Linked DNA regions of Homo sapiens. The protein of the gene in region 1 interacts with the protein of each later gene in a pairwise test. Each region holds a gene or a part of one and is shown in the gene's direction. Other genes may lie near its edges.

Evidence for each region.
Region 2: the proteins of GOLGB1 (region 1) and CEP126 interact in a two-hybrid assay, tested with the Homo sapiens proteins (one large-scale study listed by BioGRID and IntAct).
Region 3: the proteins of GOLGB1 (region 1) and SLC2A3 interact in a two-hybrid assay, tested with the Homo sapiens proteins (one large-scale study listed by IntAct).

The regions. Positions count from the first base shown.
Region 1 is NC_000003.12:121,694,178-121,697,828, reverse strand, and holds part of GOLGB1 (golgin subfamily B member 1), read left to right. Parts: coding exon 1-3,651. UniProt on the Homo sapiens protein: May participate in forming intercisternal cross-bridges of the Golgi complex.
Region 2 is NC_000011.10:101,917,980-101,921,630, forward strand, and holds part of CEP126 (centrosomal protein of 126 kDa), read left to right. Parts: intron 1-3,651. UniProt on the Homo sapiens protein: Participates in cytokinesis. Necessary for microtubules and mitotic spindle organization. Involved in primary cilium formation.
Region 3 is NC_000012.12:7,933,285-7,937,459, reverse strand, and holds the start of SLC2A3 (solute carrier family 2, facilitated glucose transporter member 3), read left to right. Parts: upstream 1-1,272; 5' UTR 1,273-1,425; coding exon 1,426-1,440; intron 1,441-3,557; coding exon 3,558-3,650; intron 3,651-4,175. UniProt on the Homo sapiens protein: Facilitative glucose transporter. Can also mediate the uptake of various other monosaccharides across the cell membrane. Mediates the uptake of glucose, 2-deoxyglucose, galactose, mannose, xylose and fucose, and probably also dehydroascorbate.

The DNA.
Region 1 (3,651 bases):
CAAACCATCGAGGAGAAGGATCAACAAGTGACAGAAATCAGCTTTAGTATGACTGAGAAAATGGTTCAGCTTAATGAAGAGAAGTTTTCTCTTGGGGTTGAAATTAAGACTCTTAAAGAACAGCTAAATTTATTATCCAGAGCTGAGGAAGCAAAAAAAGAGCAGGTGGAAGAAGATAATGAAGTTTCTTCTGGCCTTAAACAAAATTATGATGAGATGAGCCCAGCAGGACAAATAAGTAAGGAAGAACTTCAGCATGAATTTGACCTTCTGAAGAAAGAAAATGAGCAGAGAAAGAGAAAGCTCCAGGCAGCTCTTATTAACAGAAAGGAGCTTCTGCAAAGAGTCAGTAGATTGGAAGAAGAATTAGCCAACTTGAAAGATGAATCTAAGAAAGAAATCCCACTCAGTGAGACTGAGAGGGGAGAAGTGGAAGAAGATAAAGAAAACAAAGAATACTCAGAAAAATGTGTGACTTCTAAGTGCCAAGAAATAGAAATTTATTTAAAACAGACAATATCTGAGAAAGAAGTGGAACTACAGCATATAAGGAAGGATTTGGAAGAAAAGCTGGCAGCTGAAGAGCAATTCCAGGCTCTGGTCAAACAGATGAATCAGACCTTGCAAGATAAAACAAACCAAATAGATTTGCTCCAAGCAGAAATCAGTGAAAACCAAGCAATTATCCAGAAGTTAATCACAAGTAACACGGATGCAAGTGATGGGGACTCCGTAGCACTTGTAAAGGAAACAGTGGTGATAAGTCCACCTTGTACAGGTAGTAGTGAACACTGGAAACCAGAACTAGAAGAAAAGATACTGGCCCTTGAAAAAGAAAAGGAGCAACTTCAAAAGAAGCTACAGGAAGCCTTAACCTCCCGCAAGGCAATTCTTAAAAAGGCACAGGAGAAAGAAAGACATCTCAGGGAGGAGCTAAAGCAACAGAAAGATGACTATAATCGCTTGCAAGAACAGTTTGATGAGCAAAGCAAGGAAAATGAGAATATTGGAGACCAGCTAAGGCAACTCCAGATTCAAGTAAGGGAATCCATAGACGGAAAACTCCCAAGCACAGACCAGCAGGAATCGTGTTCTTCCACTCCAGGTTTAGAAGAACCTTTATTCAAAGCCACAGAACAGCATCACACTCAACCTGTTTTAGAGTCCAACTTGTGCCCAGACTGGCCTTCTCATTCTGAAGATGCGAGTGCTCTGCAGGGCGGAACTTCTGTTGCCCAGATTAAGGCCCAGCTGAAGGAAATAGAGGCTGAGAAAGTAGAGTTAGAATTGAAAGTTAGTTCTACAACAAGTGAGCTTACTAAAAAATCAGAAGAGGTATTTCAGTTACAAGAGCAGATAAATAAACAGGGTTTAGAAATCGAGAGTCTAAAGACAGTATCCCATGAAGCTGAAGTCCATGCCGAAAGCCTGCAGCAGAAATTGGAAAGCAGCCAACTACAAATTGCTGGCCTAGAACATCTAAGAGAATTGCAACCTAAACTGGATGAACTGCAAAAACTCATAAGCAAAAAGGAAGAAGACGTTAGCTACCTTTCTGGACAACTTAGTGAGAAAGAAGCAGCTCTCACTAAAATACAGACAGAGATAATAGAACAAGAAGATTTAATTAAGGCTCTGCATACACAGCTAGAAATGCAAGCCAAAGAGCATGATGAGAGGATAAAGCAGCTACAGGTGGAACTTTGTGAAATGAAGCAAAAACCAGAAGAGATTGGAGAAGAAAGTAGAGCAAAGCAACAAATACAAAGGAAACTGCAAGCTGCCCTTATTTCCCGAAAAGAAGCACTAAAAGAAAACAAAAGTCTCCAAGAGGAATTGTCTTTGGCCAGAGGTACCATTGAACGTCTCACCAAGTCTCTGGCAGATGTGGAAAGCCAAGTTTCTGCTCAAAATAAAGAAAAAGATACGGTCTTAGGAAGGTTAGCTCTTCTTCAAGAAGAAAGAGACAAACTCATTACAGAAATGGACAGGTCTTTATTGGAAAATCAGAGTCTCAGCAGCTCCTGTGAAAGTCTAAAACTAGCTCTAGAGGGTCTTACTGAAGACAAGGAAAAGTTAGTGAAGGAAATTGAATCTTTGAAATCTTCTAAGATTGCAGAAAGTACTGAGTGGCAAGAGAAACACAAGGAGCTACAAAAAGAGTATGAAATTCTTCTGCAGTCCTATGAGAATGTTAGTAATGAAGCAGAAAGGATTCAGCATGTGGTGGAAGCTGTGAGGCAAGAGAAACAAGAACTGTATGGCAAGTTAAGAAGCACAGAGGCAAACAAGAAGGAGACAGAAAAGCAGTTGCAGGAAGCTGAGCAAGAAATGGAGGAAATGAAAGAAAAGATGAGAAAGTTTGCTAAATCTAAACAGCAGAAAATCCTAGAGCTGGAAGAAGAGAATGACCGGCTTAGGGCAGAGGTGCACCCTGCAGGAGATACAGCTAAAGAGTGTATGGAAACACTTCTTTCTTCCAATGCCAGCATGAAGGAAGAACTTGAAAGGGTCAAAATGGAGTATGAAACCCTTTCTAAGAAGTTTCAGTCTTTAATGTCTGAGAAAGACTCTCTAAGTGAAGAGGTTCAAGATTTAAAGCATCAGATAGAAGGTAATGTATCTAAACAAGCTAACCTAGAGGCCACCGAGAAACATGATAACCAAACGAATGTCACTGAAGAGGGAACACAGTCTATACCAGGTGAGACTGAAGAGCAAGACTCTCTGAGTATGAGCACAAGACCTACATGTTCAGAATCGGTTCCATCAGCGAAGAGTGCCAACCCTGCTGTAAGTAAGGATTTCAGCTCACATGATGAAATTAATAACTACCTACAGCAGATTGATCAGCTCAAAGAAAGAATTGCTGGATTAGAGGAGGAGAAGCAGAAAAACAAGGAATTTAGCCAGACTTTAGAAAATGAGAAAAATACCTTACTGAGTCAGATATCAACAAAGGATGGTGAACTAAAAATGCTTCAGGAGGAAGTAACCAAAATGAACCTGTTAAATCAGCAAATCCAAGAAGAACTCTCCAGAGTTACCAAACTAAAGGAGACAGCAGAAGAAGAGAAAGATGATTTGGAAGAGAGGCTTATGAATCAATTAGCAGAACTTAATGGAAGCATTGGGAATTACTGTCAGGATGTTACAGATGCCCAAATAAAAAATGAGCTATTGGAATCTGAAATGAAGAACCTTAAAAAGTGTGTGAGTGAATTGGAAGAAGAAAAGCAGCAGTTAGTCAAGGAAAAAACTAAGGTGGAATCAGAAATACGAAAGGAATATTTGGAGAAAATACAAGGTGCTCAGAAAGAACCCGGAAATAAAAGCCATGCAAAGGAACTTCAGGAACTGTTAAAAGAAAAACAACAAGAAGTAAAGCAGCTACAGAAGGACTGCATCAGGTATCAAGAGAAAATTAGTGCTCTGGAGAGAACTGTTAAAGCTCTAGAATTTGTTCAAACTGAATCTCAAAAAGATTTGGAAATAACCAAAGAAAATCTGGCTCAAGCAGTTGAACACCGCAAAAAGGCACAAGCAGAATTAGCTAGCTTCAAAGTCCTGCTAGATGACACTCAAAGTGAAGCAGCAAGGGTCCTAGCAGACAATCTCAAGTTGAAAAAGGAACTTCAGTCAAATAAAGAA
Region 2 (3,651 bases), on another chromosome or scaffold:
CAGGTCTCTGTCACCTTCCATCACACTCGATAGACTGTCTTACCACTTGATAAGACTTGGATGCCCTGACAGGTCTGTTCCAACAAACAGCACAAACACACACACTCCCACCCACCTGTCTTTTTTTCCCCCCAGGCTCACTGATGGGATCTTACTTTTACTATAGAAAGTGAAGTGAACCCATTCAGCTGGGCCCAGTGGCTCACATCTGTAATCCTAGCACTTTGGGAGGCCGAGGTAGGCAGATTGCTTGAGTCCAGGAGTTCGAAACCAGCCTGGGCAACGTGGTGAAACCATATCTCTACAAAAAATACAAAAATTAGCTGTGTGTTGTGGTGCATGCTTGTAGTACCATCTACTTAAGAGGCTGAGGCAGGAAGATTGCTTGAGACTGCGAGGTGGAGGTTGCAGTGAGCCGAGATTATGCCACTGCACTCCAGCCTAGGCAACAGAGTGAGACCCTGTCTATAAATAAATAAATAAATTGTATTTTGCTAATACATACATAATAAAACATAGTTTTGTACCTTGTGTTTCTAAAAGGTACTGCCCCATGCTCATGAGATTTTGAAACTTAGGTACATAATACATTTCTAATGGCATATACTTTTGTATAACCCCCTTAGGAGCCAAGTTTTCTATAATGCACTAAAAGATATAAAAATGCATATGCCTTTTGTCCTCATATCTACCCCAGAGAATTTTCTCCAAGGGAATAATTCAGGAGGTTTTTATTAAATCATTACTATATTCTAAGAACCATGCCAGGCGTGAGAGTTACAGAAATGTAGAGAAGACACTTATCATGTACTCATGAAGGTGTCATCAAGTCATCTAGTGGAGGTTAGAAAAGGCTTCAAGGTAGAACGAACTGCTTGAGATGGCCCTGAAAGGATGAGTAGAGTTAGCCAAGCATGTGCCAAGAGATAATGGTATGATACATCACGGGTTGTTCTGTTTATAATTATCTTAGTGCGTCTGGACATAGGATTCATACAGGGAAATGTTAAGAAATAAAGTTGAAAAAACAAACTATATTATAGAATGGTTTATATATAGGTCCAAGAACTTTGGAATTTTTCATGAAGGTGATAGGGAGCTTTTGGAGAACAACAAAGAGAAACACAATCAGATTTGCATTTAGCTGACTTTGTGTAGGTTCAAATAGAGGTTTAGAGTAAGAAGAATTAGAGGAGCACTGTAGTCGTCCAAGCAAGGGATTTAGAGTACCTGAGTTAAGGGAGAGGAAGAAGGTACAGTAGAGGAAAAATCGAATCAACATAGCTTTAATAGATTTGGGGAAAAAATGGGTTATATAATACATAGTTATTTGTGATGGCAACATTTTAAACAACCTAACTGGATAAAAGACTAAGTTGGGAGAGGAGAAGTGAGGATAGAGTGGGGTAGAATAAGCTATGCTTTAAAATCACATGTTACAATACATATTATTCTTGGTTTTGTTTTTTTAATGTTAAGTATATAAAAATTCCCTTCTTTTGGACAGGTATTTAGCAGTGTTTTTTTTATGGAACTCCTACCTTTACCATACAGCTTGTATAAAAAAACAAAATTTAACCAGCCATCTAATTTTTTTAAACTTGAATACCATATTTGAAATGATACAAAAGCAGCAGGATTCTTTATATTAATAATTAATAATTCAGCAGGAAACATACTATACTATTATACTTATATATAAAGAAAGTAGAAAATCATTTGGTTAAATTGAAGACTATATAGTTGTCAGAACATTACAAACATTACATTTGTGATTTTCTTTATGCTGTCGTGATGAGACTTCAAACATGTCAAACAGAGAACAGAACTGTCTCCTCCTTGCTTCTCACTTAAGCCAAAGCATCTTCCTCCCCTCAACCTCATGTTGGCCCTGTGCACCCTGAAAGGAAGTTGCACTTTTCTTTACTGCCGAGTTGTCACTTTTAATACCTAGACATCTTGTTGAAGTCTGGCTCTTGTTAAAATATTCTATCAGAGAAAAACAGTTTTTCTGTGCTAGCAAAGAACCAAATTTTCTTCCCTTTTGGTTTGATTTTTATAAATCCTTTAAAAGAAATCTTTAAGTAAAAATATGTTTGTGAGTGTGTTTGGGTCTTTGTCTTGAAGTAGTGTAAAATTTTATTTAAAATGAAGGTAAAATGAATTATGGCCTATGGTATAAAGATGGTTAAATAGCAACACAAAAGAAAACAAATAAGCCCCCATCAGCAAAGGTCTAAACAACAAAATGTTCAAATAAACCTGTTATTCTGAAATATGTAATAATAGAGTTTCTTTATAATATTGATGCTGAAGCACTATAGGATCCTGAAATTAACATGTTGAATTAACAAATTATGTACCGCATAGTTTATTATTGAGTGTATTTCTAGTATTCTGTTTTACCATTAATAATCAATTTATGAGATTTTTACAATCTTGATTAAATGCAGCCTTTAAAGAGAATTTTGGACCTCCATCTTAGCGTAAAAAGTTTTTAAACAAGCTGTTTGTTCTAAAAAAGACAAATAGATATGCCCTACAATCTATAACTTCAGTATAATCTCATATATTTCTACATCTAATGATGAGGTACTAAATGTGATTACACGGTAATTCAATGAACTTTTTTTTTTTTTTTTGAGACAGAGTCTCGCTGTGTTGCCCAGGCTGGAGTATAGTGGCGTGTTCTTAGCTCACTGCAGACTCAACCCCCTCCAAGCTCAAGCGATCTTCCCACATCAGCCTCCCAAGTAGCTGGGGCTGCAGGCATACACCACCACACCTGGCTGATTTTTGCATTTTTTGTAGAGCCGGGGTTTCACCATATTGCCCAGGCTCATCTCAAACTCCTGGGCTCAAGCAGTCTGCCCACCTTGGCCTCCCAAATTGTTGGGATTACAGGTGTGAGCCACTGCGCCCAGCCAAATGAACTTCTTTTAATTCAAAATCATTAAAAACAGAAGACTCATGAAAAACAGAAAATTACTCTGACAAATTTGATAAAGATACTTAATAATGTCAATTAAAACGCAACTAAATAAATTGGAGAAATTACTCATATTGCTACAACTTATTTAAGGAGAGTTTAATTTTATAAAATAAATTTCAAGTGAATAGATGATTAGGATAACCAAAATATTCCTCTTTTTCTCTGACAAGCTTCTGGATACACAGATGACTATACATAGTTTTCCTAGTGGTTTTTTATAACCACTAAGTCACTAAGTAAATAACTAAACTGTATTCCTAACCATTCTAGTTATATTGCTATTTGATTGTTTAATATTTGAAAATGTACTTTCCTACTATAGATTAAGGGATCTGGTGAAACATTTACTCCATCTACTTTCTATTAGTAAAATACAATCTTCTTATTTCATTTTCTTATATTCATGACTATGAGGGCAACTTGTTAGTAAGTACTCAAATATCTGTGTAATGAGGCCAAGCACGGTGGCTCACGCCTGTAATCACACCACTATGGGAGGCCGAGGCAGGTGGATCACCTGAGGTTAGGAGTTCGAGACCAGGCTGACCAACATGGTGAAACCCCGTCTCTACTGACAATACAAAAATTGACTAGGTGTGGTGGCACATGCCTGTAGTCCCAGCTACTTGGGAGGCTGAGGCAGAAGAATCACTTGAACC
Region 3 (4,175 bases), on another chromosome or scaffold:
AGTGCTGGGATTACAGGCGTGAGCCACCGCGCCCGGCCTTTTTTTCTATTATTCACTGAAGAATCACCAGCTTCTTGGAGAGTACCTGATACATAGCGTGTATTCGGCAAATACCTGCTTAATTGAATTCGGTATTTATTGCATTTCTAGATGCTATAAGCTTGAGACTAGCAGAAAGTGATGCAGAATTCAGAATGGGTGATATGGCAAATGCCTTATTAAATATAGGGCTCGGCGCGGTGGCTCACACTTGTAATCCCAGCACTTTGGGAGGCCAAGGCGGGCAGATCACAAGGTCAGGAGTTTGAGACCAGCCTGGCCAATATGGTGAAACCCCGTCTTTACTAAAAATACAAAAATTAGCGGGGCGTGGTGGCGGGCGCCTATAGTCCCAGCTACTCGGGAGGCTGAGGCAGGAGAATTGCTTGAACCCGGGAGGCGGAGGTTGCAGTGAGCCGAGATCGCACCACTGCACTCCAGCCTGGGCGACAGAGAGAGACTCCATATCAAAAAAAAAAAAAAAAAAAAAAAAAGGATATGGATTGTATTCCATAAACAGTTGAACCTCTTATTCCTACTGCCCTGATAGTTGGTCTGGCTCCTAGAAATTCAGATTTTCTTCCCTCCAGGTGAGATTATGCGAAGAAAGGAACACTGGCAAAATTATTTCCCTGATTTTCTTCTCTCAGGCTGTCTTTCCCTCCCCTTTAAGATTGTGTACTCCGTCTCAAAAAAAAAAGAAAAAAAAAAGATTGTAGACCCAGCCTATAAATTCATAGGATCAAGAATTCTTACTAACACTCTTTCTAACAACCTTAAATCTCTGATAGTAGCACCCACTTGACTTCGTTTTGTATGGATAGATTTATTCTAATCTCTCTGTAGATTGTTTTAATCCCAAGCAGATGCGAGAGCATAAAATAGTGTATTTGCCCTCCCTCCAGGCTTTTCTGGTAGTATTTTGTCTGTGAAACTAAGAGGCTCTAGCTGCTATTAGAAGAGGGAAGGAGTAAGGATGAGCTTTTGAAAAAAAAAAAAAAAAAAAAACCCAGGGTGGAGAGAGTGGAAGGATGTGGTTTTAAGAGAGGGGGGAGGGAGGGCGTTATTGTCTGTGGGGCGGGGGCGGGGGTAGTTCTGATAACACAGAATTCCGAGAGATCACAAGATTGCTTCAGGGGGGTGGGGTGGGGTGGGGTGGGGCTGGGGGCTTGTCGCCCTTTCAGGCTCCACCCTTTGCGGAGATTATAAATAGTCATGATCCCAGCGAGACCCAGAGATGCTGTAATGGTAAGACTTTGGATCCTTCCTGAGGACGTGGAGAAAACTTGCTGCTGAGAAGGACATTTTGAAGGTTTTGTTGGCTGAAAAAGCTGTTTCTGGAATCACCCCTAGATCTTTCTTGAAGACTTGAATTAGATTACAGCGATGGGGACACAGAAGGTAAGAATGATATAATTACTGGTTATTTTTGCTTGTTTGGGATACACTCAGAAAGGCAAATATTAATGGTAATCTCCTTGTTCTATTTTCTCCTAAGTCACCAAGCTATCTTAAGGCCTTTTCATTTCGTCTCTAGCCTGCACTGCTGCCGCTTCATCAGTTCTCTTTGAATGTCATACAGTTCTGTTCACCTTATCATAGGAAAGTCACCCGGAGAAGTTGTGTTTGCTTCTCAGGTTTATTTTAGGTAACCATATGCCACTGAGGACGAGATGGTTGAGTGTTTAGAGGATCGGGCTGCTTGGTTGTATGGATTACAAGTGTGGGTCTCAGAGCCAGTGTGAAGACTTCTCTGGAAGCATTAGACCTTGAAAAGGTCTGTGTTTGGAGGCACAGGCCAGGGTCTGGCCATCTGTTTGTCCTATAACATATGGGGTTCGTGGATGCTAAGGAGAAAGAATTCCAGTTGTCCTTCCTATTAGGGTTAAAATCGTGAGTGCAGGACATACTAAAATATTGAGTGTTGTATATGCATTATTTGCAGGGAGAAAGGCTTTTCTTTTTTTTCTGATTGAGTTTTACTCTTGTTGCCCAGGCTGGAGTGCAATGGAGCGACCGCAGCTCACCACAGCCTCCGCCTCCCGGGTTCAAGCGATTCTCCTGCCTCAGCCTCCTGAGTAGCTGAGATTACAGGCATGAACCACCGGGCCCGGCTAATTTTGTATTTTTAGTAGAGACGGGGTTTCTCTATGTTGGTCAGGCTGGTCTCGACTCCCGACCTCAGGCGATCCGCCGGCCTCGGCCTCCCAAGGTGCTGAGATTACAGGCATGAGCCACTGCGCGCAGCAAGAAAGGCATTTTTTACCAAGATAAATTTAACTAAAAATAAGGGGCCAGGTGTGGTGGGTCACACCTATAACCCCAGCATTTGGGAAACCAAGGCAGGAGGATCACATGAGGCCTGGAGTTTGAGACTAGCCTTGGGCAATATAGTGAGATCCCATCTCTACAAAGCAGAAAGAAAGAAAATGTAGGAAAATAAGAAAGGGATGGAAAATTATGAGACTAAAGAAGAAAAGGCTCTCAAAGATAGTGAATGATGAGAGGAGACAGAAGAGATTTTTACTAAACGGAAAAAGATTTAACAGAGCATTGCACTGGCAGGGCCCTCCGGGGTACCGATGCTTAGCTGGGACTGAGACATCTGGGAGGCTGCAGGCAAGGTCACTTCTCCTGCTGAAGCTCCCAGCCTGCTGCCTAATCTGCCCGACCTGAAAGGAAAGGAGTTTAAGATATGAAAGGTTGAAGGGATTTTGGGTGGTGGGGTGGGGGGGAATGGCGTAGAAGTTGGCCTCAGGTATAAAAATTGAGCTGCCCCAAGGTAGAAATGGAAAATGTCTCGCCCGGCTGAATTATTCCAGGCAAGGTGAAGATGACCGGTTCTCCCCACTAAGAAATGTCTCTTATATGTTGGGTTCGCCCTTATATGTTGGGTTCAGAGTAAGTACTTTCTTCCCCTGCGCGGGAGTTAGGGATAGCAGAACTGTATTTAATAAACGAAGACTGAAATGGGGCCAGGATGCAGTGAGTAGATCCAGTAGGTTACATGGTCCTGAGAGATAAGAGACTCAAAGAGCCACCCAGCAGTGAAGACACAAACTACCACCCCCTCCACCACCACCAGTGGGCTTCCGTGGAGTCTGGGGTACAGATCAGACTGCACTGTATTTGTTTCCAGAATGGTCAATTCTTAGTAATCCTACCCGAGACTGTCTTTTTCTCTGCCCTCCCAGTTCGTGAGTGGAATTCTATGCCTACATTTGCCTGATGCAAGTTTTTAAATATTTCCAAACTGACCAACCCAGTTTCTCTTAACTTCTTCCTTCCCCAATTTTCTTTCATTTTTACCAAGTTAACTTCACATTCTTATCTCCAGATAAGTTCTTTAGTATAATCTATTCCTTTGTCTTCCCCATTAATTACCTAAATCTCATTGGATGTTCTTTTCATACCACTCATAACTCAAATTCTCCTAATACAGCTCCATAATTAATAAGAAACAGTCATCAATCACAAGTTTTAAGGACTATTCTCTCCTCTGTCTTCCCTCCCTCCAGGTCACCCCAGCTCTGATATTTGCCATCACAGTTGCTACAATCGGCTCTTTCCAATTTGGCTACAACACTGGGGTCATCAATGCTCCTGAGAAGGTGAGTGCCAGGCCACAATAATTAGAATTTAGAATAGGGAAGTTATTCCTTTAAGTAGGGTTTCAGGAATTCAGAATTTAAGGCCAGGCATGGTGGCATCTGCCTGGAGTCCCAGCTACTCCTGAGGCTGAGGCTTAAAGATCACTTGAGTCCAGGAGTTAAACACCATCCTGAGCAACACAGTTAGTGAGGGTCCCTCCCCAAACTAGGGGATTTTAAGACAAACTTTGTATCTATCCTGTCCAAGACTGAAGATGGAGACAATATTGGTGGGGAAAATTAGTGGGGTCATCTAATCGAAGCACAAAGCTCACTTACTCCCGGAACGCTGGGCGGTGCTGTTCTTCCTCCCACTCTTTCACCTCATAGTGATGCACATCCTGTATTATCCCTTAGGGGTTAGTTACAAAGAAGCTGGGTTCCCTTAGCAGAGGGCTGGGGTAGACTGTGAACATCGGTGCTGCCACCTACTGGGATTTTCAGGACAAATAGAATTACTATTCCAGCGAGAGTTAACATAAATTC